7 linked regions of the Homo sapiens genome follow. The protein of the gene in region 2 purifies or fractionates together with the protein of the main gene of each other region. This does not show direct contact. Each region holds a gene or a part of one and is shown on either strand. Other genes may lie near its edges. The genes, in order: ATP11C, TAS1R2, OSBPL8, LRFN3, ANO6, ASPHD2 and ATP2B2.

Region 1 (4,054 bases), on a different chromosome or scaffold from region 2:
TCTTTTGCCACAAAGACCCTAATGAACAAAGCCACCTTATCTTAATGGTGGATTTTAATTAGGCTCTGTGATTAATTTGAATTTCCTCATCTGAACTTGAAATATAATTATGTTATCTGACTTTCATTCTGGCCCCTAGGATCTCCTGAGACCCATCTCAGAAACCTGTAATATGTTTACAGGTACTTGGGTAATGCACCCTTTTGGAGAGAGATTCATAGAAGCCCAGAGGAAGGTTCTTGGTCTGACTGACAGGGACCCAGGGTCATTGTCAGAGTTTAGATTCTAGCCCATCTGCAACAGTGCCCACATCTGGCCAACAGCAAACCAGATGCCATGTTAGATGTCTTATACATATACTCCCGCAAGACTAATGACCCCCTCACTCCCACCAAAACAAGCTATGTAGTAAATACTTTTTTTAAAAAATACTAGTTGTTTATTTTCAAGGAAATATTTCCTCTCACTTTTTCTAATAACCAACTCTTATTTTAACTCTTCTGTGTCTCTCCATTGATTAGTTCAGCCATCCACACACACATTTGACCAGTCTCATCATGTCATTCCACTGTTTAAACCCTTTTATTGGCTTTCTTTTGCTCTTACAATACAATCCCAAATTCCAGAAATGGCTCACAAAGATGTGTTTCCAGCCCCTGCTTACCTTTCTTGCTTTATCTCTTACTATTCCCCTATTGATGAGTTTTTTGGGCATTGGTGAACTACTTAAAGTCTTCCATGGGCCATGTGCTCTCATGCTGCCGTGCTCATTCCCTCTACTCAGAATGCCATGGCCCCCTTTCTTCATCATATTACCCTTGCAGAACCCAGCTCAGGCATGTCCTCTTCCAGGAAACCTCCTTTCAGATGACTTCCTTCTGTGTTCTTATATCTTCCCTGTAAGTGCCTTTATTACAGTATTTGAGAAACTAGAAGGGTAGTTATCTCATTATGCTCTGTCTCCCTTATCATATGGTGACCCGCATAAGGGAAGGGACTCAGGCAGATTCACCTCTATTCCCCAGCACCTAGCACTGTGCCTGGCACTCCATACATAAATGCTGCTAAAATAATTGGCAGAGTGGGACTGTTTCTAGACCCCTCCAAATATGGCTTGGTGGGACAGCTCTTTATCTTCCATTTTTATGTGGTCATTCTCCTTACCATTTTAAGTAATATACTGAGGGGCTATAAATACCCCTTAACTAACACTGGTGTCCTCTGACAGCATGTTCTATGTTCAGAGAAATTCTGAGACAAAGGAAAGTACCAGTTGTGCACACAACCAGTGCTATCTGTTGATTTAAGATGTTTAAATATCTTAACATATTTCTGTTGTGCTTTATTTTTCTCAGTATATTCTAGGTTTTTTACTTTGCTCATTTCTCTTAAAGATATGAACTTCTTCACACCTTAAACTTTGATGCTGTCCGGCGACGTATGAGTGTAATTGTGAAGACTCAAGAAGGTACATGTCTGAAAAGCTTGAATTTTTCTCTTTGTTGATTTGTAGGCTTATTGGTTGATTCACTCTTTCAGGAAAGAGAATCATTTCATGTAGTAGTGTAGGATTAGTGAAAGTCATGCAAAGCAGTAGCTTTTGCATATGCTTTCATGTATTTTTTTAAGCACAGATGTTCTGTTTACCAAATTGTTAGTGACAGAACCCTTGTTATGACAGGGTGTGCCTTTTCTTGGTAGCAGAACCATATCCCTCTGCCTTGGGTGTTCGAACAGGAACTGAAAGGATGACTTTTATATGGTTCAGGGTACTGACCAGTCTACCAGTAATGTTTACATGCAGCCACCCAGCATAGTTGGATGGTTTGGGATTACTAGCAGCAGAATCCTTGAGTATAGGGAGTTGCTTGTTATCCCTCACTGACCTTCCTGGTTCCCCTACTGCTTGACACTCCCTGGAAACAGGTGAGGTAGAGAGGACTAAGGGCCTGGTTTCTGGGAAATGGCATTGCAGTTTCACTCCAGAGCTCAGGTTCTTTGTTGAGCAGAGTAAAGCTTGCCCTTTGCAGGGGAACTGGTACTGTAATCCTGGGCTCCCTCATGTCTTTGGAGGCACCATGGTGGTTTGCCTTCTGCTCAGATTCTGCAAGACCCATGGGCGAGCAATCCTGCTTTATTCGAAGGCTCTCAGATACGTGTGTGTGTGGTGTGCCGAGGTGGTTTGTTTTCTAAAAATTTTTGATTTATTTCCCAGTAATTTACGTTTTACTATTAAATTTTCTAAATTCCTTAATGTCAGAATGGGAGGATACAGACAGATCCTTGGGGGAACATATCCCACTTAATTCATACTTTGTGGTGTGATTGCAAAGTCATGAAATTGATTTTAATAAGTGACCATGGAGTTTGTTTTGTGAATTTTAAAATACACTTTGGATGTGTAAGAATAAATGAAAAAAAAAACACAACATTTCAAATACTTGCTATTCTTATGTGTGCATGTCCACATGTTCTACAGCAAATGGTGAAATGTCTGTGGAACTGGTCTACAAAGGTCATTGACCTCAGAGCTACACTTTTTAATTTGTTGACCTCGGTTGTTTCCCTTATAAGGATAAAGTGTCTGTCTTAGTGCACAACTGTGAATATTTCCTGGGTGTGTGAAGTGATCTAAAGCTGCAATTATACCAGCATTCTACAAAGCTATTCTCATCAGTAAAAACTATCAAGCCATTGTTTTAGAAGCTAGTTAATATAGTTTATTCAAAATTATTTCAGCTTGTTTGAGCTTGAGCTTTCTTCTTGACATCTGTAGATGCCATATGTGTGCTCTAGGCCATGGCTTCACTGCATTTTTTTTTTTTTAAGACACGGTATTACTCTGTCATCTAGGCTGGAGTGGCAAGATTATAGCTCACTGCAGCCTTGACATCCTGGGCTCAAGCAATCCTTCCACCTCAGCATCCAGCGTAGTTGGGTCTATAGGTGTGTACCACCATGCCTGGCTAATTTTTTAATTTTTAGTAGAGTCAGGGTCTCCCTGTGTTGCCCAGGCTGGTCTTGAACTCCTGAGCTTAAGTGATCCTCCCACTTCAGCCTCCCACAATGCTGGGATTACAGGCATGAGCCACTGCACCTGGCATACATTTTCAGAAGAAATTCAGATGCAGCTCCTTGACACAAGCCCAGCCCTCCATGAATTGGTGGGAGGAAGTATATTTTAACAGAGGTGCCTATTGTAAACTCTGGCTTATTAATTGTGTTCATAATGACCTTGAAGAGGTGGTACATGCCTTTCTGACAGACTGAAGGCCAAGATTTCTCATTCCATTTAGGTGAGTATTGCAAGGTGTGCTCAGAATATACAACACTTGGGTGAGAGAGACCGCTTTAAAAGTTACTCTTACTAAAACCACAATACCAGCCTTAAAATTCTAAGTCAAGTACTATGGTTCTTTATTTTAGGAGACATACTTCTCTTTTGTAAAGGAGCAGACTCGGCAGTTTTTCCCAGAGTGCAAAATCATGAAATTGAGTTAACTAAAGTCCATGTGGAACGTAATGCAATGGTGAGCCTATACTCCTTCCCCCACCAATAAGTAAGCAGAGAAATGTTGAAAATGACTATGTTTATTGGATTTCTGTTTAAATGACAGTTTAAATACATTTTAGCTTATTTTTGTGGTCTATGTTTTGTATTTGGGGATTTGATAATATTACTTTTTTTTATCTTAATATAAAACATTTTCCTGGAGCAAGTTTCAGGTCAGAATTTGCAGCCTTAAAAGACTTTTCAACAACCTTTGTTAAAAGAACTGTTACTTCCTTTTTCTGAACCTAATTGAATGTTACCTTTTCAGTTGTAATTTCTTCATTTTTTCAGACTAAATATGTGTCAGAATTTCTCTTGTCCATATGGCTAAAGCAAGAGTATTTACAGAGTGTGTTTTTTTTTTTTTCCAACTATTATTAGAATAACTACAGATCTCCTACTTTACTCCTAGGATGGGTATCGGACACTCTGTGTAGCCTTCAAAGAAATTGCTCCAGATGATTATGAAAGAATTAACAGACAGCTCATAGAGGCAAAAAT
Region 2 (3,500 bases):
CGAGGCCAGGTGCTGACAGGTGGCACTTGCTTGAAACTGGTGACTGCAGCAATGGCTGGAATAAACAGTGGGTTGAGAAAATATGAGGCAGGCCACAGAGAGGCCCATTTCTTGTTCCACTCAGTGGCTTTCCTTGAGCCTGAGGAGTCACAGACTTTTTAGAGCAGCCGCCAGCTCAGTCTCTAACAGAAAGGGAGTTTGGCGGACTTAGCCACTACCCAAAGTTGTCACTGATATTCATCTCTCTCTTCTGCTTACCATTCTGGGTTTCTTCACTCTCAGCCAGCATTTGGCTGCTCTCAGTCACTTGCCTGGGGGGTGATCCAGACCTTCTTCCCCAAGGTGTCTGGGCCCTTAGTTGCCTTGCATTTCTGGGCTGTGCCTGCTGCAGATTCCCACCCGCAGGTGCACTGGGATTGAAGCACCCAGGGTTGCCTGGTGAGTCCTTGGGTGCCAGACCTACTCCTTCCTACTCCACTTGTGTAGCAACCACCTCAGCTCCACCCACGAATCCAGGTCAGTTACTTCTTCCTTTCTTGGCCTTCTCATTCACTGGCATGAGGAACCCAAAATGACCACATGGTAATCGTAGAGCCCTATAGTGTCTGCTGGTGGAAGTATTCCCCCTTTGGGGACCAGAATCTCTATTCCAGCAGAGTGTAAGATTGTAGAGAGGAGAAGCACCAATGCTGCAATGGGTTCCTGAGAATAATGGTGCATGTAGCCAATCCTTCTGGTTGCTGGATACACATATTCTAGCTGTTGAGGCCACAACACTATACACAAGCCATTCATTCAAAACTTCATCTTAAAGGGCAGTGTCCCCACCTTGCAGGGGGTCCTGAAGATGGTACCTTAGCTGAGCTTTTAGTATGTCATCTCATCACCTGGTTAGATAGGATACTTCTGGGTAATGTGGTATATGTTAGGATCAGTGGAGCCTGTGGTCACATGCCCATGTCACACCCCTTTACCATGAAGTTGACTCCTGATCTGAGGTGATACAGTGTCCTGCATCAATAAATCATTTGCTCTGTAAGCCCCCAGATGGCGATGCTGCATTGAAATCAGGGAAGGAAAATTCCCTTCCTGGAATTTTCCCAGAGAGGAAAAGATCTGATGTAATAGATCTTTCAGCAGTTGGTTGGCTGGTCTTTTTGAAGAATTGTATCAAGTCAAGGGCTCAGCATGGGTGGGTCTCTGATGCTGGAATGTTAGGTGTTCTGCAATGGCAGTAGCTAGGTCAGCCATGATGAGAGGAAGCTCAAGCTGTTGGGTTCATATCTGTAGCCTCCATCCCTGACATCATGGCCACTCTGTGCAGGCCTTGGGGTGGCTGAGGACAAAAGCCAGCTGACCTTCATTGGACAAGTCAACCTTCTTCTTCTTCTTCTTCTTCTTTTTTTTCTGAGACAGTCTCGCTCTGTCGCCCAGGCTGGAGTGCAGTGGCACAATCTTGGCTCATTGCAACCTCCGCCCCCAGGGATCAAGAGATTCTCCTGCCCCAGCCTCCCAAGTAGCTGGGATTACAGAAATGCACCATCACACCTGACTAATTTTTGTGTTTTTAGTAGAGACAGCATTTCGCCATGTTGGCCAGGTTGGTCTGGAACTCCTGACCTCAATTGATCTGCCGACCTTGGCCTCCCAAAAAATGCTGAGATTACAAGCATGAGCCACGGTGCCTGGCTGGGACAAGTCAACCTTTTAATCTGGTTTCTATTACTCTGTGTTTGCTCTCTGGTTTGCATTAACATGAGACACAGAGATCTTCATGCTTTGTGCTCACTCTCATGGATCCATACATATACCTTTCCCCAAGCAACTTTGTCTCCATTCTTCCACTCTTGCTCCTTCCAGGCCCCTGAACAACCAGCCAAGCCATTCCATATGTCCAGGATCTCAAGAATATCCATCCTTCAGGACATCTCTCCATTCACACAAAGCAAACAACCAAGTGTCCTGCTTGCATCTCCACATACAAGCAGTATCTCCCATCATTACTGTCCTTCAGAATTCACCCTGAAAAAAGCTTTGTATCCCTGAAAAAAGCTTAGTATGGCAGCAGTCCACTGTCAGCTCACATTAATATATCAAACCAACCTACTTGTGAATCATTCCTGAATGTTCTCCTCTATTTATTTGTCATAAAGAATCTCTCCCTGAGGTCTTAGGTATGATTTGAGGGAGAGGCATTTGTTACAACAGAAATAGATACAGGAGTCACAATAATTGATTTAAGAAATTTACTTGGACCCACTGGCGCTTCTTGGATACCATTTCCCTTATATGAAGACTTGTTTTTATTCCTGCCTCTCTATAAGACTCTGTGAATCTGATAGTCACTTGATGTCCTGGGGTCAGGTACTCAATTTCCATGATGGCCCAGCAGGACTCCAAGAGTTGATTTTCAAGTAGTGAGTAGCATGTTGTTGTAGAAGGCATGGCATTGTTGCATCTCTCTCTTTGGGCTTGCCCATTCTTATAAGCATAGATAACTCAAACATCATCAGATCTCCTCGATCATGTGGCCCCAGTGGCAGGATCGCTTATACAGAAGCCAGGGCCTTCTTCAGAGTCATTTTCTGGACTTGTTACCCTCTGCCTTGAAACTGAAAGCCTTCTGAATCACCTGATAAACGGGTTGCAGTAGTATTTCCAGGAGCAATTTATGTTGTCCCGCAAATCTAAAGAGGTTTATAAAGTTCCATACTTTCATGGTAGCAGGTGTAGGGTGGATGACTTGTCTATTATCTTAGAATGGATGTCCTGGCATTCTCTGTACCTTTGGCCTCCTAAAAACATCACCAATGTAACAGCACCCCCAACCCCAAGTTTTGAATCTTTACAAGGTTTATCTCCAATCCTCTGGCATTCATAGGTCTTACTTGGATATAAAAGTGCTTGCTACTTTCTACTAACCAGGTCCAATTACCACGGTGTCATGAATATCATAGACCAGCGTGATATTCTGCAGAATGTCAAGATGAACAACTTCCATGTGGACTACATTGAGATCGAGAGTGAAAGAGTAAACTCTACGATAAGATAGTGAATGTCAGTGATTTGATAAGATAGTGAGTGTTAATGATGTAACATCTTTCTTCTTTTTAAATACAGATGTTTATAATAATAAATTTCCCTCTTAAGTATTGTTTTCACTGTACCCCATTAATTTTGGTACATTAAAATTTTTTATTTTTGTGATAAAAGACATATAACATAACATTTACCAATTTGTTTATTTTTAAGCATGCATTTCAGTAATGTTAAGTATATTCGCATTTTTGTGCAACAGATCTCTAGAACTTTTTCATTTTGCAAATTTCTAACTCTATTCCCATTGAACAACTCCCCATTTCTTCCTTCCTCCAGCCTCTGGCAACCATCCTTCTACTTTATGTTTCTATGAGTTTGACTACCTAAGACACCTCATATAAGTAGAATCATACAGTATTTGTCTTTTTGTGGGGTTATGTTGTGTTTTTATTTTCATTAAT
Region 3 (4,054 bases), on a different chromosome or scaffold from region 2:
TAGTAGTGTATCTAGGACTGAAATTTGCATATCTTCCCATTATATGGCCTAGGAACCGGCTTAAAATTTGTTTAGCTGCTATAATCAGGTGTAGAAATGTATTTCCTTGATTCCAGCCAACGTGATTTACTTTATCTTTCCCAAATATAGCCATGCTAATTATTCACCTTGTCTGTGCATGATGTCCCTTCTATTAAGAATGATTTCTGCCTACTCCTCCTTACGCTTTTCTCCTGTCTATATATTCTTCAAGATCAGTCTCAAATATTACATCATGTGTGAAACCTTATAACTATGAGACATAATCTGTCTTTCTATAGAGTAACATGTTTTTAGTAATGGCACTGGACTTAACTCTACCTGGTATTTGTGAAATTCATTTATATTTCTGTTTGGAATGGAACTGTATCCTATTTGTGGTTTTATTCCCTGAAGCATTTATTGTAGTTAACACTAAAAAAGCATTTCTCCAAGGAAACTGGGCAGTAGTGCAAAGACTTTCTTGAGATTCAGGTCTTTTTGTTGCTTTGCAGGAAAAACATTAGACTTTTCTATTTCCTCCCTGTCCCCACCCCTTGGCTTCTGCTCTGTAACCACTTTCATCAGCATTGAGGTTGCTCTTCTCAAAGTTAGACTGCTATTCTCCTCTTCTTCATATTGCCTGATTTAGACATTTCTTCCCTATCATTTTGCTTGTTTCTTTTTTTTTTCTGTCTGTATTACTTTAAAAAATTTTTTAGAGCCAGGGACTCACTCTGTTGCCCAGGCTGCAGTGCAGTGGCACAATCATAGCTCACTGTAACCTGGAACTCCTGGGCTCAAGCCATCTTCCAGTCTCAACCTGCCCAGTAGTGAGAACTACAGGCCTGTATTACCACACTGGGCTGGCTGGCTGGCTTATCTATTTATTTATTTATTGAGACATAGTCTCACTATGTTGCCCAGGTTTTTTTTCTTTTCTTTTTTCCCCCACTCTCTTTAAAATCTCCATTACCTGACCTTTTATGTTATTTCTTTGCAGACCTACGATCTGGAGCTTTATCTTAATCCCAAGTACCTGGTGCCCGAATGAGATAGGATGGAATGGGGTGGGCTACTGATAGAGGAATGGGTATTTGTTGGAACCTCTTTCCAAGACTTTCCCCCTTTTGTACAGATTTTTTGCCCTAATCACTTTAAGTGAGAATAGGGTAGATTAAGCAAAACTTACTTGATTTTAGTCCATAGGTTAATTTCTTTCAGCTGAAATTTTCATTTTTAATTCTCTCTGGATTTTGGCTCAGGATTAAACCTTTCAGACGAATAGAATTTAATATAATTGTTTATCATTTACCATTTTCATATATTTTTCTTGGACTCATGTGAGGTGACTTTGGAAACCTTCTTATACAGGTGGAAAGTCATAATTTATTTGAGTTCAGTTGAGAATCTGATTATCTGGACCTGCATTTTTTCTTCATACCATAAGTGACAGTGAGATTGATGCAAGTGATGCTGTTTGAAAAACTAAGAAAAATATCTAACAAGAAGTCTAAACTCTTGGTTTTGGAGGATTTTAGCCCCAAGTGGTAGAGAGGCAAAGAGCTCAGAGTGTCATCTTTTTGCATTTCTCTAGGTTTTTAATTTTTCTATGCCTCTGTTTACTAATCTGTAAAATGAGAATAATAATACTACCTATCTCATAGGGTTATTTTGAAGATTAAGTGAATTAACACTATGTAAAACACTTAGAACACTGTCTGGCACATAGTAAATTCTCAATAAATGTTGTATATAATTATTATTTATGAATTGAGCATTCTTAACATCCTTGATTCTTCCTCCTAAAAATTCTTTCCCTTAAGGTTAAATGATAGTGAAATTGAACGACAACATTTTAAGGACCAAGATATGTATTCTGATAAATCTGATAAAGAAAATGATCAAGAACATGATGAGTCTGATAATGAGGTGATGGGGAAAAGTGAAGAAAGTGACACAGATACATCAGAAAGACAAGATGACTCATATATCGAACCTGAGCCTGTTGAGCCTTTAAAGGAGACTACCTACACTGAACAGAGCCATGAAGAACTTGGAGAGGTAAAAGTCTGCTATTTTTAGAGGTTCTGGATTTTCATATTCTTGGGAATTCTTAAATGAAATTGAAGATATTATTTGCTTGATCTATTGCCTATTTTTCTGTGATAGAATGTGATATTTTAAAAATTGCATACATATGAAATATATTGGGATTTACAAACAACTAAACACATATACTCACATAAATACCAATATATTCTATTAAATTTAAAGTTTACATTTTCTTCAAGCTTGATTTTGAAGTAGGATATTGCTTGATGTCATTGCCAGGTGCAAAGTTGCAAGGAAACGTGAGTTTATAACTTTGTTATTGCCAGTGCATCATAGAAGTAAATGTAGTATAAAATAATAGGCTATAATATTTTTGTAGTGGATCTCTTGTATATATTGTTCACTTTGATGTCTTTTTCAGCTACCCTTTTTTACCTAAGTTTTATAGCTATAGATTTTATTATTATTTTTTGTTTCCACATTTAAAGAATGCTTGGAGTAGTCCTGAGAAGAGTTCATATTTTCAACATTAGCTGGCTTGTTTACATATCTGTCTGAAATAAATATAATGTTTTGGTAATTTTCATTAATTGATAAAGGCAGGTGAGGCTTCTCAAACAGAAACTGTATCTGAAGAAAACAAAAGCCTTATCTGGACACTATTGAAACAAGTCCGTCCTGGCATGGACCTATCCAAGGTGGTTCTGCCTACATTTATTTTGGAACCCCGTTCTTTCCTGGATAAACTTTCAGATTACTACTATCATGCAGATTTCCTATCTGAGTAAGTAGATTCTTATTTCTTAAAATAGACAATACTTCATGATTTTAGAAATTCTCAAGAATGCTATTTTCAATTATCGTTTGTTTCCAAAATCAGGCTCTAATGAGACATCACTCTCTGTTCTCTACCACTTCTGTGGTTGACCCTTAGTAAGAAGCATGTTTGATACTTTGCTATAATGTTGCCATTTATGAAGTTAAATTGAGATATCATAAGCTCGAGGAAAACAAGAATTCTACCCTTTACTCAACAACACTGCCGTTATAGGCTCCTTAACCTCAGTTCACTAACCTAACAGAGAGAGAGAGGTGATTGGCATCATTTGTTCTCCTCTACAAAAACACTTGTTCAGTCCCATCCTGGGGCATCTGTGTTTGCTCATACTTGTCTGTCTGCATGCTTGTGAGGTATGTACGGCTTACCAGAACTAGAATGCCCTGCCAGTTGCTAGCTTTTGGAACAAATCCTTATTTTCTTTGCTTTTCTGAAGCCGCCAGCTGATCCTGGGTGTAATTTTGAAGAAGGCACACCTAAAGGAGGCAGAGGAGGTGCTATCCACCTCTGTCCCAGCAATTTCTTGGAAAACCAGTAAACTTTGCAAGGAACAGCAACTTTGTGTCCATGCTTCCAATTCTTACCTGATGCCCCTATTCCAGCAATAATGGTGTTTCAAGGCACTGTGCTTTCTGTGCCACTGATATCTGGCCCTGCGACCTAATTTTTAGAATCTTTATCAAGACTTATTTTCGGTTTTTGTCTATAAATGGCATGAGCGAACATTGAAAAAAATAAGCTGAGTCAAAAAATAATTGGTAAACTGGGAAATTTTTGCAAATTTCATCGTAGACAAAATGTTAACCTCCCTAAAAAAAGCTCTTAAAAATTGAATGAAAATGATTCTATAGAAAAGGAAACTTACAGAAAAAGGAGTGGAAGAAATTACTGGGCAGTTGGAAAATGAAGAAATAGGAACAGTCCTTAAACATGTAAAAACCTCATGCAAAATAAGGAAAATGTACATTTGAATTATAGTAAGTTATTGTTGTTTATCCACCACATTGACAAAAAGTCAAAAAGCTTTTATATCCTCGTTCTAATATCTTCTGCACTTTTGTCGGTCTAGAAATTCATTTCTCTCAGAATGTAAGGCAAATTCCTGTGAATCACAAGATTTTCTTGAGAGATGCCCCCTGTCTC
Region 4 (4,054 bases), on a different chromosome or scaffold from region 2:
GTCTCACTTTGTTGCCCAGGCTGGTCTTGAACTCCTGGCCTCAAGCCATCCTCCTGCCTCAGCCTCCCCAAATGCTGGGATTACATGTGTGAGCCACCGCGCCTGGCCTTCCTCTGGCTTTTGGTCACATCTGACGGTCTTTGACCAGCCCTTCTGCCCTCAGCCCACTGTGACCTTCTCTCCTGGTCTCAGACCACCCCCAGCCCCTGCAGAACCCCTCTTCTGCCCTCACGCCTCCCCTCTTCTCCGCAGGACACCCCTGCCCGCGATGGCCATCCTCCCGTTGCTCCTGTGCCTGCTGCCGCTGGCCCCTGCCTCATCCCCACCCCAGTCAGCCACACCCAGCCCATGTCCCCGCCGCTGCCGCTGCCAGACACAGTCGCTGCCCCTAAGCGTGCTGTGCCCAGGGGCAGGCCTCCTGTTCGTGCCACCCTCGCTGGACCGCCGGGCAGCCGAGCTGCGGCTGGCAGACAACTTCATCGCCTCCGTGCGCCGCCGCGACCTGGCCAACATGACAGGCCTGCTGCATCTGAGCCTGTCGCGGAACACCATCCGCCACGTGGCTGCCGGCGCCTTCGCCGACCTGCGGGCCCTGCGTGCCCTGCACCTGGATGGCAACCGGCTGACCTCACTGGGCGAGGGCCAGCTGCGCGGCCTGGTCAACTTGCGCCACCTCATCCTCAGCAACAACCAGCTGGCAGCGCTGGCGGCCGGCGCCCTGGATGATTGTGCCGAGACACTGGAGGACCTCGACCTCTCCTACAACAACCTCGAGCAGCTGCCCTGGGAGGCCCTGGGCCGCCTGGGCAACGTCAACACGTTGGGCCTCGACCACAACCTGCTGGCTTCTGTGCCCGCCGGCGCTTTTTCCCGCCTGCACAAGCTGGCCCGGCTGGACATGACCTCCAACCGCCTGACCACAATCCCACCCGACCCACTCTTCTCCCGCCTGCCCCTGCTCGCCAGGCCCCGGGGCTCGCCCGCCTCTGCCCTGGTGCTGGCCTTTGGCGGGAACCCCCTGCACTGCAACTGCGAGCTGGTGTGGCTGCGTCGCCTGGCGCGGGAGGACGACCTCGAGGCCTGCGCGTCCCCACCTGCTCTGGGCGGCCGCTACTTCTGGGCGGTGGGCGAGGAGGAGTTTGTCTGCGAGCCGCCCGTGGTGACTCACCGCTCACCACCTCTGGCTGTGCCCGCAGGTCGGCCGGCTGCCCTGCGCTGCCGGGCAGTGGGGGACCCAGAGCCCCGTGTGCGTTGGGTGTCACCCCAGGGCCGGCTGCTAGGCAACTCAAGCCGTGCCCGCGCCTTCCCCAATGGGACGCTGGAGCTGCTGGTCACCGAGCCGGGTGATGGTGGCATCTTCACCTGCATTGCGGCCAATGCAGCTGGCGAGGCCACAGCTGCTGTGGAGCTGACTGTGGGTCCCCCACCACCTCCTCAGCTAGCCAACAGCACCAGCTGTGACCCCCCGCGGGACGGGGATCCTGATGCTCTCACCCCACCCTCCGCTGCCTCTGCTTCTGCCAAGGTGGCCGACACTGGGCCCCCTACCGACCGTGGCGTCCAGGTGACTGAGCACGGGGCCACAGCTGCTCTTGTCCAGTGGCCGGATCAGCGGCCTATCCCGGGCATCCGCATGTACCAGATCCAGTACAACAGCTCGGCTGATGACATCCTCGTCTACAGGTGCAGGGTCCAGGCACTGGGGTAGCTTGGGTGGGGGAGTGAGGCAAGGGGAGGGTTGAGGGTACACCTACTAATACCCTACACCGAAGCACAACTGATAAGTGATGCTGGAAGGTTCCAAAAGAAATCAGAGAGCAAAAGTAAAAGAAATCAGGCAGCAAGGATAACAAGACTCTGGCAGAAAGGGTCAATGAAATCTGACAGCAGTGATAAAAAGAAGTCAGACAAGAAGGACGAAGTAAATGAGACAGCAAATGTTAAAATATATCAGGCTACAGGGCTAAAAAAGATCAAGCAATAAGGATAAACGAAATCAGGCTGCATGAGTAAAAAGAAATTAGGCAGCAAGAATAAATAGTAGTAGCAAACATAAAAAGGAAACCAGGCAGCGGGAGGAGAAAGTAATCAGGGCAGAAGAATAAAATGTTAATGGGCAAGGGTGGGTGGGGAAGATAAGGGGATAAAAATAAATTTAAGTTGTAAAGATAAAGAGAGAAACACCAGGTTTTCCAGATGACAGGACTAGATACTAGCTGGGCTGCAGGAAGAAAAGGAGATCAAACAGGAAAGCACAGGGAGCCCAGAAACAATGAAATAAGCAGCTCTGTTAGAAAAAGAAATCAGACCAGAGGTTAGAAGGAAATTGCAGGGAGGAGGTTCGATAGAGACTGGGCTTCGGTGTGTGTGGTGTGAACTATTCCATGTTTCAAGTTCTAATATAGTGACATCCAGATTTTTTTTTTTTTGAGACAGGGTCTCACTTTGTCGCCCAGGCTGGAGTGCAGTGGTGCAATCTCGGCTCACTACAACCTCCACTTCCCGGGTTCAAGCGATTCTTGTGCCTCAGCCTCTCGAGTAGCTGGGATTACAGACGTGCACCAGCACGCCCAGCTAATGTTTGCATTTTATTTTTAGTGGAGACGGGGTTTTGCCATGTTGGCCAGGCTGGTCTAGAAGTCCTGACCTCAGGTGATCCACCTGCCTCAGCCTCCCAAAGTGCTGGGATTACAGGCGTGAACCACCACACCCAGTGTAGATTTTTTCTTTTCTTTTTTTTTTTGAGACGGAGTCTCACTCTGTTGCCCAGGCTGGAGTGCAGTGGCACAATCTTGACTCACTGCAAGCTCCGCCTCCCAGGTTCATGCCATTCTCCTGCCTCAGCCTCCCGAGTAGCTGGGACTACAGGCGCCCGTCACCATGCCCGGCTAATTTTTTGTATTTCTAGTAGAGATGGGGTTTCACCATGTTAGCCAGGATGGTCTCGATCTCCTGACATCGTGATCCACCCGCCTCGGCCTCCCAAAGTGCTAGGATTACAGGCCTGAGCCACCGCGCCCGACAGATTTTTTATTTTCTAAATCAAATCAAACCTAGTTCAAGTTCCTTTTGCCAGGTAAACAGAAATATCCAGTTTGCCACACTTGTGGGGGATTCTCTTCTCTCTCCTGTTGTTGCAAACACAGAACCTGGGGTTTACACACTCCAAGAGGTGGCTCAGTCCAACTTGTTCCCCCAAGCTGGAGAGCACTCAGCACATCTGCAGTGACCGCATGTGGTCAGCAGTGGTGGCTGCTGACCTAGGTGCTGTTGACACCTCTTACCAAAGTCCAACCTTGCATGGATGGACTGCGGCTGTGGGTGAGTCCCTGTCCTCACGGCCAGGCTGGGCCAAGGGTGCAGCCCCAAGGCTGACTGTAAAGACTGGACCTCCCCAGGGTTGAGGACTGTTCCTTGGGGACCTAGTAGTACCTGGATGTCCTTTCCCTCCCTTGGGGCCAACACCTCAAGAAAAGGCCACTTGATTTCCATTTCAGTCCTGGCAACCCACTGAGCTCATTCTACTCCCTTTCTCAGACATGACTCGGAAGATTGCACGGAAGTCCTGCCCCTGAAAATCACACAAGTCGGCCAGGCGCGGTGGCTTAACCCCTATAATCCCAGCACTTTGGGAGGCCGAGGCAGGTGGATCACCAGGTCAGGAGTTTGAGACCATCCTGGCTAACACGGTGAAACCTCGTCTCTACTAAAAATACAAAAAATTAGCTGAGTGTGGTGGCACGCGCCTGTAGTCCCAGCTACTCAGGAGGCTGAGGCAGGAGAATTGCTTGAACCTGGGAGGCGGAGGTTGCAGTGAGCCGAGGCTGTGCCACTGCACTCCAGCCTGGGTGACAGAGTGAGACTCCGTCTCAAAAAAAAAAAAAAAAAGTCACACAAGTCCTGGCCACCTTGCCAGGTGGGGAATGGGATGAATGCTGTCCTAGACAGTCACCCTGCCCCAGGCGGCCACGGAGTTCCCTGTACCTCTCTCATTAGAATAGCCTAGGAATAAAACAGGTGATAAGTCAACTCTCCAACAGGGTGCCCAACTACA
Region 5 (4,309 bases), on a different chromosome or scaffold from region 2:
CTTTATCCTTTATAACCATTATATGTGTGTATATATACTTTTCTACATATCACATAGTATTATTTAAATGTGTAAAGTAACAGTAACTGCTAGAGCCACACTGTTGATTAGACACAATGGCATTAGCGGTTGGTTGTGTGTGTAAAATGTCCACTGCCTTGTCCAGATAAACTGCCATAATGACAAGCAAGAATGAAAGGAACTCGGTGTTCTCCTCCATTTCTTTGTGAGTGACATTTTTCTTCTTCTCTTCCCCAGCACGTCATCTACTCTGTGAAATTTTTCATTTCATATGCAATTCCCGATGTATCAAAACGCACAAAGAGCAAGATCCAGAGAGAAAAATACCTAACCCAAAAGCTTCTTCATGAGAATCACCTCAAAGATATGACGAAAAATATGGGGGTGATAGCTGAGCGGATGATAGAAGCAGTAGATAACAATTTACGGCCAAAATCAGAATAAGAGCTTTATGTTCTGAGAAGCACTTTAAGGAATTTAGCTTTGTCAAAATATATTAGGAATCACTAATGAGAATGTGTAAGTTAAATCACTTTGGCAAATATGAGTCTCAACTATTGCCATTTCCTCATGTATTATTTTTCAGTTTCAGCTAGCGATGCAGAAACTGGAAAATGTAAAACTTAGATCATGAAGGGCATAAAACTTATCACCCGGAAAACCTCAATGTTACCTTTTTCTGATAAATTGGAATTTTACAGAAAAAGTCCCTCAGTGTGCTTAAAAACCACCCCTTCTAAAGTAGAATGGATTCTTTTTTTTCTGTTTGATTATTTTCATTTCTGTCTATTCTCAGGCGCATGATCTCCTTTATTTTTAAGCCATGTTTCATTTCTTCACTTGGCTAGATCTGTTCCAGGGTCATCTTTTCCTTACAGTACCATCATTATAGATTTAATTTAATAGCTTTCATGTGATTAAAAATAGCTAACTAGACTCAAGGATTCACAATATTTAGGTGTATTTTCAATACCTCCAGAAAGGAAACCTCAGTTAATCAGAGGAAATAGTTTCAGTCTTCATTTGAGCATGTCTTTCCATCTCAAAAAAATACTCTTAGTAGGTTGGAGTGAAGATAGCAAGGTTTTGAAGCATATTTGTCCTAATCCACAGTGACACTTTTTATCTTCCAGGAGCACTCCTAGGAGGTTCCGTGCCTAATCAATGTTGACTGCTTTGCAGATCTCAAGGGAATAAAATGACAAAAGCAGGGAAAGTTACAGATTCAAACAGCATTTTAACTCATGTTGATCTGGATAATTAATCTTTTCTAAAGATGTGTAGTTTCTTGGAAAACAGTGATATCACATGATTAAAATTACATTTTTATCAACATAATTGTCTGGAAAAGATAAGCCCCTCAATTTTCTACCAGTTGACTTTTATTCATTAGATACAGAAGGTGCAGTATTACACATCACCAGCTGCCTTTGTGAATGGCTCACTACACAGCCATTGGGGTACAACTGTGTGCATGGGCAGAAACAGCAAGTGCCCTCATTGTGGTCATTGGGTGGGGAGTGCCTTTTGTCAAGGAGTCTGCAGGAATTGGCTTATTTCTGTATGCCAAAGTGATCAACACACCAAAGTCTCTGCCATAAAGAATGTGGCTTCCTTGCATCCTCCATCCTGTTACTCTGGGCCCAGTAATTTGATGTAACTGTCTGATTGTACTAGAGACAGGAGTATACCCAGCTTATTCATAATCAAGTAAAGAGACTCAGATTAGATTTGATTTTTTAGCCTCCTCTAGAGCCAATCAGGCAGTTAAGAGTAATAAAGGAAAAGGGTTTGGTCACAAACCCTACCATTATCTGGAGATTACTTCCTGCTGCACTCCTGTCTTGCCATGCACGTCTTGCCCCCTCACTTTTGCTCAGCCTAGCAGTCTACTTCACTTTATTGCCTTGTAAGTGTCAGGCCTCCTGGGCGCTCTGGAAAAGACAGGGAGCCAGGCCCTCTCACCCCTACTGGTAACAGGTCATTGCTGGGTGCACAAGAGGGAGGTGATTTGCATCATGGTCATGCTGCATGGGCTTCACTGGGATGCTGTTAAACACCAGAGGAGCCAACCTATCAGAATCCCAGCAGCAAAGGAAAACTCAGATTTTAGAGGCTTTTTACAATAAAGTAGCGTAACTCTAGGTCATGATTGATTTCAAATGCCTGCCATGAATGATTTGTAAGTAATTATGTAGGATCCATCAAAGCAGTATTGTAGGCTTTTGAATTGTCCCAGTGGATCCGGGACCCCATTTCACTGTCTCTCTTGATCGTGTTAATGATGCAATCAGAGTTCAAGACAGGCCCCATGAAGTCTGACTGCACTGGGATGGAGAAATGAATTTCTTCCCACTGAAGGAAACTCTTTCTCATTCGCAGCCAAGACGGGAGTGCCACTGTTCCTCTCTTCACTCCTGAGATACTGCTTCTGGAAGCGGGTGTCACTTCCTCTCTAGTACCTCTTCTCTTCTCTGAAGTGTGTGACTATCTCCTAGTGTTTAAATTTGGCAGTTACTCGCCATGTATGTCAGCATAGAAAAGGAAATGTTTTTACCTTATCTCCTGTATGTATGATAGAACTTAAAAGAAATGTGCATTTGTTTTCATAGCCCCAGCAGAGAAAATCCTCTTCATAGATTAAATGTGCTGCTGTGGACAGGAGGGGAAAAAAAACCCTCTACATATTGAAAGGCACCAAATGTAATATCTGACACTGTTAAGATGCCCAAAAGAGCAAAGTTGTAGTGGAGATGCAGGGTCATTTCCCCATGCCATCCACAGTGTTTGTTAGTGAGTCCACGGCTGACTTGCAGTGATAAAGAAAAGCATGGAGCTGTGTCTGCAGACAATGGTGGCTGCATCTGTAAGTGGCTTCAGAGGCAGCAGCCCTGGGGAAATTGATGGGTGTGGCAGTGGACCTGTGAAGAGGGAGAATCTAGCCTTCAGCCTGTCCAGTGTTAACCACTAGAGAAACTGAGCTTTATATCCTTTTTTAATGCCTGTGAATTTTAGCATATTGAAACATTAGAGCAAATACTCAGGGGATTTTTCATTAAACATCCCTCAGATAATTTAGCTATATATCATTAGAAAGGGAAAGCTATCATTTTTATTTTAAAACTAAACAAGGCCATCTTATAAACTGTCACCAAAGTCTTCCCTTTTTTATTGCATGTGTGCCTTGAATTTCATAAAACATTAATTCACAATGGGGGTCAGAATGTACTCTTGTTGAAACACTTCTTGTACCATTTTATGTTCATATTATGTTTGAGAGGGTAAAAATGTATGAGCAGCTTAACTGAAGTAGAACTATTCATGATGCTTTTCACACATTGTGGCATAAGATGTAAAGTTTGTAATTAATGTTAATTTCTGTGCATTTTAATATTCTTTTATAATTATTAATGTTAATTTCTGTGCATTTTAATATTCTTTTATAATTATGAGCATTTTAATAAATTCATTTTTACAAACAATAGTATGGTCTATTCTATATTGTCTTAACGTTTTTAAGGAAGAGAACATATATCTGCTATTTACTAGTGGCCAGTTGTGTATCACTTAGATAAATGTGTGCTTTTGTGTAGATTTTTCACAGCCTTCACTTCAGAGATTTGCTATGGATTTTTAAAAATTATATTCAGTGTATTAAGGTTACAGATCAGAAAAGCTAGTTATTAAACTCAGCCCAAATCCTATTCTTTTCATCAATCTAGCAAATTTTACCACTTTTTACCAGACTTTTGAATAATGTTTGATTTCACCTACTAGTTTAATGAAATGTGTTAAAATATCTGCAATAGCACTTATAAATGTAGCATATTCCATTCATTTCCTTTTTAAAATACTCGTTATATGACCAATAGTGACCGAGAGGACGTAACTGGCAAAACTAGAAACGTCTTTCTCTTGCTGCCTTCTCTCTATAGGACACCTTTCCCAGAACCATTTAGGTTGTGTTCCCTGTCTCCCCTTCATTACTGAGAGGCAATATGTAAATGGACAATGGCCAGATCATATGTAAAAGCAGAACTCTATCCACACCCTGCCCCTGCTATCTGCAATAGTCAGCCCAGAGAGCCAGCCTGCAGTAGGTTATACTAACAAAGTCAGAGTGCTCTCTCCAGTTACAATCCAGGAAACTAAAGAATAACTTCTGTAACAATTGGCCCAATATGACCAGGACTTGATGAATAACTGACAGCTTCCCTAATTTTGGTCCCGGCTTATACCTTAGGACCAACCAGAGAAAGCCAAATATGCCCTGCTAATCATCGCATAG
Region 6 (4,054 bases), on a different chromosome or scaffold from region 2:
TTTCATAACCACGTTCTGCAGAGGAGCCTCAGGGCTGCCTGGGAAGGAGCCGGAGCTGGGGGCCCCCGAGCCCTCTTCACCCTCAGCAGCTCTGCTTCTCCTGCTGTCTGTGTGGGGGTTCTGAGTAAGATGTGGTTTGGATGGAGGATATCACTGCACTAAAAGAAAAGAAAAGAAAAGAAAAGAAAAGAAAAGAAAAGAAAAGAAAAGAAAAATATAATGAGATTTGAGCAATTGACATGGTAGGAATTTCAAGAGTAAAGGGCGGACTGGGTGGAGGCTTTGGGGGAGGTGGCCTGAATTCCTGGTCAGCAGTCAGCCGTGAGACTTTGAGCAGGTCACTGAGTCTCTCTCTGCCTCAGTTCTTCATCTGTAAAATGGGGAGATGGTACTTACTTCACAGGATTGTTGAGAGGATTCAATGAGTGGCATCTTACATGGCCCCTTGGCAGGATTCCTGGCACGTGACAGCATTTGATGAATGGGAGCTAGTAGCTATTATCAAGGACTGTGTTGGACCATGTGAAAAATGATCCATAAGACATAGACCCTGCCCCCAGGAAACAGTGGGAAAGGAACAGGCTTCGGAAGCAAACAGATCTGGACTCAGGTCCTGGCCTCGCCCCATTTGCTGAGTGACCTTGGGCAGGGCTCTGAACCTCCTTAAGCCTCCGTTTTATCTTCTCTAAAACAGAGATGACGATTCCCACTTGCTGGCTGTTTTGAGGAGTGGGAAGTAATATGTGTAAAATGCTTGGCAGGTAGAGGGCAGTGGACAGTAAGCTAATCTAAGTGATGGGATGATAATCCAGGTGATGGTCATTAGCAAAACTGCTGTGCGAGGCCCCAAGCCTCACTTGGCTGCAGACGGGGTGCCCTGGGGAGGTGGGTCTGACACTGGAGGATCCCCACACAGAAATCAGGTGCCGCCAGGGTGGAGCGAGGGAGCGGAATCATCCCCTGGGGCTTGGGGAAGCCGGGTCTAGGCTTGCTGGGGAGGCCAGTAGTGTGGGCTGAGGTTGGACAGGTCAGGTGGGAGCAAACCTCAGAGGCCCTTGATGCCAGGCTTGAGAATGGAGGCCGTGGGCAATGGGGAGTGATGCTCTTCTTTTGAAAGGTTTGCCTTTATGTATTGTTTTAAAACTTCAGAATGACATCTGGGGAAGGGCATTTGAGGACTGATGTGGTAGAATTTCAAAGAGGTGTGAGTAGGAAGTGATGGTAGCAAGGAAAATCTGGGGTTTGCTTTCTGTAGATTAACACTTGTTGTTCATCTGTATGATATGCATGCATGTGTGTGTGTGTGTGTGTGTGTGTAAAACATGCCCACGCTGGCTCACACTGTGGCCTGTGGCCTGTCATTCCTTTCTCAGCCCAGCTAGGTACTTGCCAGAAAAAGTAGGCCCTCCATGTTCCTGTAGATAGCAGGAAACCTTCTTGGAAGACGTCCCACTGTGGCGTGGCTTGTTCTCCACGGCCAAGGCGAGCTCCCTGGTTGGGTTTTCTCAGCGTTTCCTTCTTTACACTATCATGCCCACATTAATATCCACCCAGGAAGGAAACAAAGGTGTGTCGGATTTATGTGACCTTGTGTGTTGACAGAGAGGGAGTCCAGAGAATGAGGTCAGAAGCAGGATAAGCCTGGTGCGTACCTGGTGGCCACACCTCTGCTGGTTACCTGGCTGAAGGTAGAGGCACCTGCAGTTCCAGAACCGTGCTCTTGAAATGCCAATGCTTGCTTTTCTTCTGCCTTCTGCCTGAGCTGTGACTGATGGAATTGTCCCTGTGGACCACTGAAGACCCAGCCACTGCTCCTCACTAACACAGCCCATTTGTTCGAGACATATTTGCTGAGCCCTGCTGTGAGCTACTTCTAGAGGTGGCATCACCTAGTCCCGACTTCATATGGGACCACAGGACAGCTTCAGGCCCACCCCCCACTCAGCATCGTACACAATGCTGGGATATTCCAGATGCACTGCCACAAACTTCCAGAAAACCACCTCTGAAACTCACCAGGCAGATGTTACCAGGGAGGCAGATACTTCATGAAAATGCATGAATATGTTCAGCAAATTCTAGCTAAAGAAGCACAGTTAGACTCTTGTTTTTCTTTTCTGCATGTCATCAGATTTCTAGGTGGTCTAGCCGGGTGGTAACAGTAGATCAGCTCATGTTCCCCTTGCCCACCCTGAGTGCCCGGTTGCCAGCCGCCTGAAGTGGGGGCCACTGGTGGACACAGCCCTTTCTCTACCCTCCTTCCTGCCTCTTTCAGGGCTCGGTAGGGACAGAGCAGCAAAGCTTGAGCCATAGAGGAGCATATGGGACTATCTGAGGCCATGTGTGGGACCTGTCACTGTCCTCAAGAGCCACTGGAATGATCTGTTTAGGGAAGAATTGAGCTCTTCTGCCAACTAAGCTGGTTTGTGGGCAACAGGCAGGAATGGGGGCAGGAGCAGAATGAAGGGGAGGCGGAGAACAAGAAGCAGGGGGGTGTCAAGCCAGCAGGCCAGGCCATTTTTCTATCGCACCGTGGCACGTGGCGATGAATCATTTAGTGGCCCAGAGAAAGGGGAGCTTCTTTCTGAAACCCCGGGGTGGCTGTCCCTGCAGAGAACTGCCCATTCCTAAAGGCCTTCGCCACCTGAACCAGCCAGTAGGGGCACACGCCAAAGGAAAACGTAGCCTCTGAGTCCCTCCATCTGGGCGTCTTTACAGCCCTGACTCCCCCAGCTGCTGTTAACCATAGTGGGAAATCATGGCTTCTGTCAGGATGAGCAGTCTCAGCTGATTTAATGAAATGTACTATTGAGAGTTGAAACATATTAGGGTCCTCTTAGAGGGACAGAACTAATAGGATATATATATACACACAGATATATACACACATACATATATATACATATATATACACACACACATATATATACATATATATAGATACACACATACATATATATACATACATATATATACATACATATATACACATACATATATACACATACATATATACACATACATATATATACATACATATATATACACACATATATACATATATATATACACACATATATATACATATATATATACACATACATATATATATATACACATACATACATACACACACACACACACATATATATATAAAGGGGAGTTTATTAAGTATTAACCCACATGATCACAAGGTCCCACAATAGGCTGTCTGCAAACTGAGGAGCAAGGAAAGCCAGTCAGTTTCCAAAGCTGAAGAACCTGGAGTCCGATGTTTGAGGGCAGGAAGCTTCGAGCACTGGAGAAAGATACAGGCTGGGAGGCTAGGCCAGTCTCACTTTTTTATGTTTTTCTGCCTGCTTTATATTTGCTGGAAGCTGATTAGATTGTGCCTGCCAGATTAAGGGTGGATCTGCCTTCCCCAGCCCACTGACTCAGATGTTAATCTCTTTTGGCAACACCCACATAGACACACCCAGGATTAATACTTTGTATCCCTCAATCTAATCAAGTTGAAACTCAGTATTAACTATCAGACATGTTAACTACAAGAAAATCAGCAATCAGGCCAGGCACAGTGGCTCAAGCCTGTAATCCCAGCACTTTGGGAGGCCGAGTCAGGTGGATCTCTTGAGGCTAGAAGTTCGAGACCAGCCTGGCCAACATGGTGAAGCCCCATCTCTACTAAAAATACAAAAATTAGCTGGGCACGGTAGTGCACACTTGTAATCCCAGCTACTCGGGAGGCTGAGGCAGGAGAATTGCTTGAACCCAAGAGGCAGAGGCTGCAGTGAGCTGAGATCATGGCACTGCACTCCAGCCTGGGCGACAGAGCACGATTCTGTCTCAAAAAAAATAATAATAAATAAAGAAAAATCGAAAACTCCACAATCACTTTAATTCCTCTGTTAATAGTATAACAACTAGCATTTATATCATCATGTCCAGTTTTATAACAGCCTGTTCTTTGGAGTCAGGCTGACTCAGCAACACTAAATGGTAACTTTTTAGCAGGTCATTTAACTTCTTAGTTACCCCATCTGGAAAGTGGGTG
Region 7 (4,618 bases), on a different chromosome or scaffold from region 2:
TGAGAGGCTCAGGCAGAAGCCAAATGCTACCGAGTTGCCATCCTGAGGGGTTTAACAACATGCTCCGTAGACGAAGGGAGAGGAGGAGAGAAGGCTTCCTGGGTTTGCAACACTAACGGCCATCCGGCCCAAGGATGCCAGGATCTGCAAAGCACTGCTCGAAGACTTTTCTCTCAATGAAACTCGCTTGAGTTTACTAAGAGCATTTCAAAAATAGGTTCTCTTTGGCACTGTCTGTACAGAGATTGAGGTAGTGTTGAAATATTATAAATGGTATTGTGTTGATTTTTTTTTTTATTTAGTAACTTACAGGTTTGTTTCCTTATTAATGGCAGCATCTGAGCTGTTGGCATATTGGATGAGGATCAGTATGGCTTGCTGCTTTTATTTTTATTTTTGAAGAAGAATAGCCTTTTTCTCTGCACTATTTAGATCCGAATGAACCTTATGATGTGTATATTGAGATGTACTCAGTGTGATTTTAAACCAAATTGTCTTCCTGTAGTCACAATATATACTGTAGCCTTTTAACAGCAAGTCTTGCTTTCCCAAACAGAAAGCCATTCTGAAACCCTACAGTATCACAGGTGAGAAAAGGTGGTTATTTTTTCCCCAAGACAACAGCACTAGTAATCCCACTTAATAAGAGCTTATTTAATTGGATGTCAGCCTCTTAACTGCTAAGCACTTTGTGGGTCTCAGCGTTTTTCATAAAAGAACTTTTGTATTTAATACAAAGTTTGCTTTGAGACTTTTCAGCATATGATCTTTTTTCCATAAACTTGTACAGTGCAAAAGACATTTTGAATACCATGATCGATGATGTCCCATGCTTCGAGGAAAACCAAACACTTTCCGCCTCTCTTGCAAAATCCATTCCTCATGCTGACCCTCCTCACGATGGCTGTGTCAGCCCAGCCCCTTCCCTTCTCCAGGCCCAGAGAACTCTTCCACAAACAAGATGAGAGCCACTCGGGAAAAGAGCCATAGTCAACTGGGAGGGCCTACATCTGGATGGCGGTGGAAAAACTTGAGGGTTTGGGGTTCAAAGTCAGCCCATCCCACCTGGCAAAATCCTCCTGGAAGGAGGACCTTCAAGAGCGCATCACCTGAATGTCGTGAAGAAGTATCTCTGAATGTATCCAGGAGAGGAACTGCATAACCAAAGGGGTGACCAGCCCTCAGATGTGCTTATTGGATTCCAGTACAAACGCCACCAAAGCCAGCCCACTGCTCTCCTACAAGGAAGGAAAGATCTGCACGTGTAAAACATGGGGCAGCCTTGGAACATGGTGTTTTTTGGAGTTTCCTTTCTCACAGTTTTCCATCTCCCCACTTCTTTGATCAGTCATGTGTCCGTGACCTCGTTCCATGACATCAGGATAGCTGTGTTTGCACACCATGCTCCATGTTCATTCGGAGCCAGGAGGGGTTCTCAGTGGAGCCTGGCTTAGGGAACAGGGAGCGATGGAAGAATGCCAACATTAGCGTTGGTCTTCTCTTGTCAGGAATGAAGGATGCTTGCACACATGCACCCCCTCACTCTCACACTTGCACACATACACACACACACACACGAAATGGTTGGTTTGTCAAAACTCACTGTAGTACATAAAGCTTGCACTCTGCGTCCTATATCTAGCAGCATGGGGTACGTTTGGCAGTTCACTCCATTAGGGGGTAAATAATTTATGACCATTCATCTGTTTTTATGAATTTTTTTATCTAGACAATAATGTAAATAAAGAACTCACCATCTCTGTTCATTTAATACTATGCAATGGTTATGCTTTCAATCGCTGGCTCTTCTGACTCGTGCAGTGTGGTTCTGAAATGTTTGTGGTTTAAAAAAAAAAGCAAAAAACAACATCAAACAGAACATAGTAAATATATCTGTAATGTATACTTTTTTCTACTTTGGGACTGCATCATCCACATAGCTTCTTTTCTGTCCTCTAGACAAGGGCTCCAGGAGTAAGTGGCAGATTTGGTTCTGAGAGCTAAGCTCACCAACTTGTCTCCCCCTCAACAGATGAGGGAAGGGCAGGGAGCCCGTTCAGTGACTCCTGGCGCTGCAGAATCACTCATCTTTGGAGGTGAGCAGAGAGAGCTCTGAGGAGTTTCCTTCTTGCAACTCAGGCGGAGCTTTCTTTAACTCAGGAGCAGCCTCCATTGCTCCCGCCAACCCCTCACCATGGCCCCTTGTCCCCTTGTCCCAACCATAGCATAGAGATGACAAGAGAGAGGCAGTCCTATTTCTGAGACTGGACCAATTAAAATGACTGCACTGGCTCAAAGGACTCTGAACCTGTCTTGTCCTGGGTCCTCCAGTTGTTGGAAGCCACTCTTTTCCCCAACCATGCTGAAATGCCACCTTTACCACACACTGATGTCTTACATAGACTTAGATCTATTTCTGGAACTTCTCTTCTCTTCGCTTACTTGGGTGTCTCATCTGGCACCAGCCATACAATTTTAACTATTGTCAATTTCTAATGTCTTATTATGTGGTGGGATGAGTCCCTTCACTCTTCTTTTACAAAATTTCCTAGTTATTCTCTCACATCTATTCTTCCACATAAACTTTAAATTGTGCCCAGTCCTCCACCCCCTGTCCCATTCCCACCCCCAAATTCTGGGCTCTGTCATTCCCTGTGCCATCATCTTCCCCCCATTGTAATTACTGTCCACTCAGGGCTGTGAAATAGACTATGTTCTGTAAAGAGGGACAAAAAGGGCATCCTGATCTTGAGAGAAGCCTGCTGTTCCTCCCATCATTTCACCTGCCCCCTAAGCCCAGGAGTTGTCATGAGAGGTCACCAGGCCCCCACTCAATCTCAGCTTGGGAACCAAAGTCACCCACCTTGGTTGTGTTGGGGTGGACCCGCCATCTGTCCCTGGTCCAGACGAGAAAGAGGAGTCTCTCCTAGGCCTGGAGCTGGGAAAGAATGTGTGGCCCAGTTGTCTGCACTTCTAATTCTCATCATGGAGAAACCTTTATTCCTATCTCCCTTTCCTGAACTGGTTTTTTGTTGTTTTTGTTTCATTTTGTTTTGGGGGGATAGTTTCTTGCTCTTTAATTTGGAGTCTCCAGTACCTTTGGGATGCAGGCAGTTCTTGCCTGGGCCTTCTCGGAACCCTCACTCCCCTAGCCCACTCTTGCGCTACCTGCAGGAGGCTGCCAACCTGGTGCATTCTGACAAGCCTCCCACCCAAATCTCTCTCCTGCCATTGTGTCCAAAATCCCACCATTAGAGGCTCTTGTAGGGAAGAGCGTTTCTTGAAGGCTTTTAGGCCTTCCAGAGCCAGGAGGGAAGTCAGACAATAGCAGGAAGTCCCCAGGCCTTTTCAAAGTTCCAAACCAAGCTCTCCTGATTTTAATGTAGAGATCATACCAACCCAGGTGGGGGAGGAGGGTCCCCAGCCCCAGGCAGCAGCCATCACCCCCTCCACTGAAAACAATATTGGAGGCTGCTTTGGGACTGCCCTTCTCAGCCCCCTAAGTCTGTTTTGTAATGCCTGTGGTGCTCTCCCTCCTGGACCTTTCCTCTCGGGGGTCACCACACTTTGCTAACTCTTGTGTGCACATATTTTATAATAGAGTAGCGAGGGAATGGTGCCGCCTCCAGCTTCCGTAAGCTGCCCGGGCTCTGGGGGGCTCTGGGACAATCGGGGCTGGGAAGTGACTGTGCTCTTATTGTACACTCTTTATTTCTCTGTATCTTTGGCTTGTGCTCTTTGTAATTAATGGGATTTGTCTGCCTTTTCAACACTATACTGAGCAATAACAATAAATGCACACGTGGAAATGCAGACACGGTACACATCACAAGGCCTTTTTCTGAAGGACAGCTGGGTCCCCGCCCTTCGTGGAGTTGAACTCAGGGGGAAACTGAGTCCCTGGGAGGGAAATGCACTTTGCCCAAGGGCCCACAGCTCAGCGGGCAGTCTCTCTCCTTCCACTAGATCACACCTTTTGAACACCCACCATTTGAGGGAGACAGGCTCACCCTGCCATGAGCCATTAACCTATGAGGAATGGTTGACCATCTCATAGAAGAAGACTGGGGAACGGGGCCTCAGGACGAAGCGGAGGAGGTTTGGGGGCAAGGGGTGGGGGGGCAAAAATCAGGGAAAGTTGGCCTGATTTGGGGTCTGGATTAACCAGAGGGAGGAGATGCGGAATACAGACACTGGATCTAGGTGGCACCCCCCTACTGGGGAGAGGGGTAAGGCAGAGGGAAGCCTGGCACCTGAGGAGTCTGGACTTCACAAACCTCTGCTGAACATTGGCAGAGAAAGAGAATATGCCCAGACCAACAAGTAATCCCTAAGGTTGGCCCAAGGGTTGAGAGTTACACACACACTCACACACTCACACAGCTCTTCTTAGGTTGAACTGATCCCCAAATCAAGCGCCATAGGCCCATCTGACTTCCATACGCAGTTTCATATCCAAGGGTTCATTTAATCCCAATATCAACCTTCAGAGGAGGTATTATTATAATTCTCACTCAAAAGAGCAGGAGACAGCATCTCAAAGAGGTGAAGAGCATGCCCACCTGGTAAGCAGGAGATCCAGCACTGATACCTAGCAGTCTTGATGCCAGCATCTGTA

What was found.
Region 1: the proteins of TAS1R2 (region 2) and ATP11C purify together in Homo sapiens (affinity purification with mass spectrometry; one large-scale study listed by BioGRID and IntAct). This does not show direct contact.
Region 3: the proteins of TAS1R2 (region 2) and OSBPL8 purify together in Homo sapiens (affinity purification with mass spectrometry; one large-scale study listed by BioGRID and IntAct). This does not show direct contact.
Region 4: the proteins of TAS1R2 (region 2) and LRFN3 purify together in Homo sapiens (affinity purification with mass spectrometry; one large-scale study listed by BioGRID and IntAct). This does not show direct contact.
Region 5: the proteins of TAS1R2 (region 2) and ANO6 purify together in Homo sapiens (affinity purification with mass spectrometry; one large-scale study listed by BioGRID and IntAct). This does not show direct contact.
Region 6: the proteins of TAS1R2 (region 2) and ASPHD2 purify together in Homo sapiens (affinity purification with mass spectrometry; one large-scale study listed by BioGRID and IntAct). This does not show direct contact.
Region 7: the proteins of TAS1R2 (region 2) and ATP2B2 purify together in Homo sapiens (affinity purification with mass spectrometry; one large-scale study listed by BioGRID and IntAct). This does not show direct contact.

What each region holds. Positions count from the first base shown.
Region 1 is NC_000023.11:139,782,640-139,786,693, reverse strand, and holds part of ATP11C (phospholipid-transporting ATPase IG), read left to right. Parts: intron 1-1,394; coding exon 1,395-1,468; intron 1,469-3,426; coding exon 3,427-3,530; intron 3,531-3,965; coding exon 3,966-4,054. UniProt on the Homo sapiens protein: Catalytic component of a P4-ATPase flippase complex which catalyzes the hydrolysis of ATP coupled to the transport of aminophospholipids, phosphatidylserines (PS) and phosphatidylethanolamines (PE), from the outer to the inner leaflet of the plasma membrane.
Region 2 is NC_000001.11:18,842,661-18,846,160, reverse strand, and holds part of TAS1R2 (taste receptor type 1 member 2 precursor), read left to right. Parts: intron 1-3,500. UniProt on the Homo sapiens protein: Putative taste receptor. TAS1R2/TAS1R3 recognizes diverse natural and synthetic sweeteners.
Region 3 is NC_000012.12:76,388,448-76,392,501, reverse strand, and holds part of OSBPL8 (oxysterol-binding protein-related protein 8), read left to right. Parts: intron 1-1,844; coding exon 1,845-2,082; intron 2,083-2,672; coding exon 2,673-2,857; intron 2,858-4,054. UniProt on the Homo sapiens protein: Lipid transporter involved in lipid countertransport between the endoplasmic reticulum and the plasma membrane: specifically exchanges phosphatidylserine with phosphatidylinositol 4-phosphate (PI4P), delivering phosphatidylserine to the plasma membrane in exchange for PI4P, which is degraded by the SAC1/SACM1L phosphatase in the endoplasmic reticulum.
Region 4 is NC_000019.10:35,939,158-35,943,211, forward strand, and holds part of LRFN3 (leucine-rich repeat and fibronectin type-III domain-containing protein 3 precursor), read left to right. Parts: intron 1-252; 5' UTR 253-268; coding exon 269-1,683; intron 1,684-4,054. UniProt on the Homo sapiens protein: Cell adhesion molecule that mediates homophilic cell-cell adhesion in a Ca(2+)-independent manner. Promotes neurite outgrowth in hippocampal neurons.
Region 5 is NC_000012.12:45,428,847-45,433,155, forward strand, and holds the end of ANO6 (anoctamin-6), read left to right. Parts: intron 1-258; coding exon 259-465; 3' UTR 466-3,503; downstream 3,504-4,309. UniProt on the Homo sapiens protein: Small-conductance calcium-activated nonselective cation (SCAN) channel which acts as a regulator of phospholipid scrambling in platelets and osteoblasts.
Region 6 is NC_000022.11:26,435,551-26,439,604, forward strand, and holds part of ASPHD2 (aspartate beta-hydroxylase domain-containing protein 2), read left to right. Parts: intron 1-4,054. UniProt on the Homo sapiens protein: May function as 2-oxoglutarate-dependent dioxygenase.
Region 7 is NC_000003.12:10,323,218-10,327,835, reverse strand, and holds the end of ATP2B2 (plasma membrane calcium-transporting ATPase 2), read left to right. Parts: 3' UTR 1-3,813; downstream 3,814-4,618. UniProt on the Homo sapiens protein: ATP-driven Ca(2+) ion pump involved in the maintenance of basal intracellular Ca(2+) levels in specialized cells of cerebellar circuit and vestibular and cochlear systems.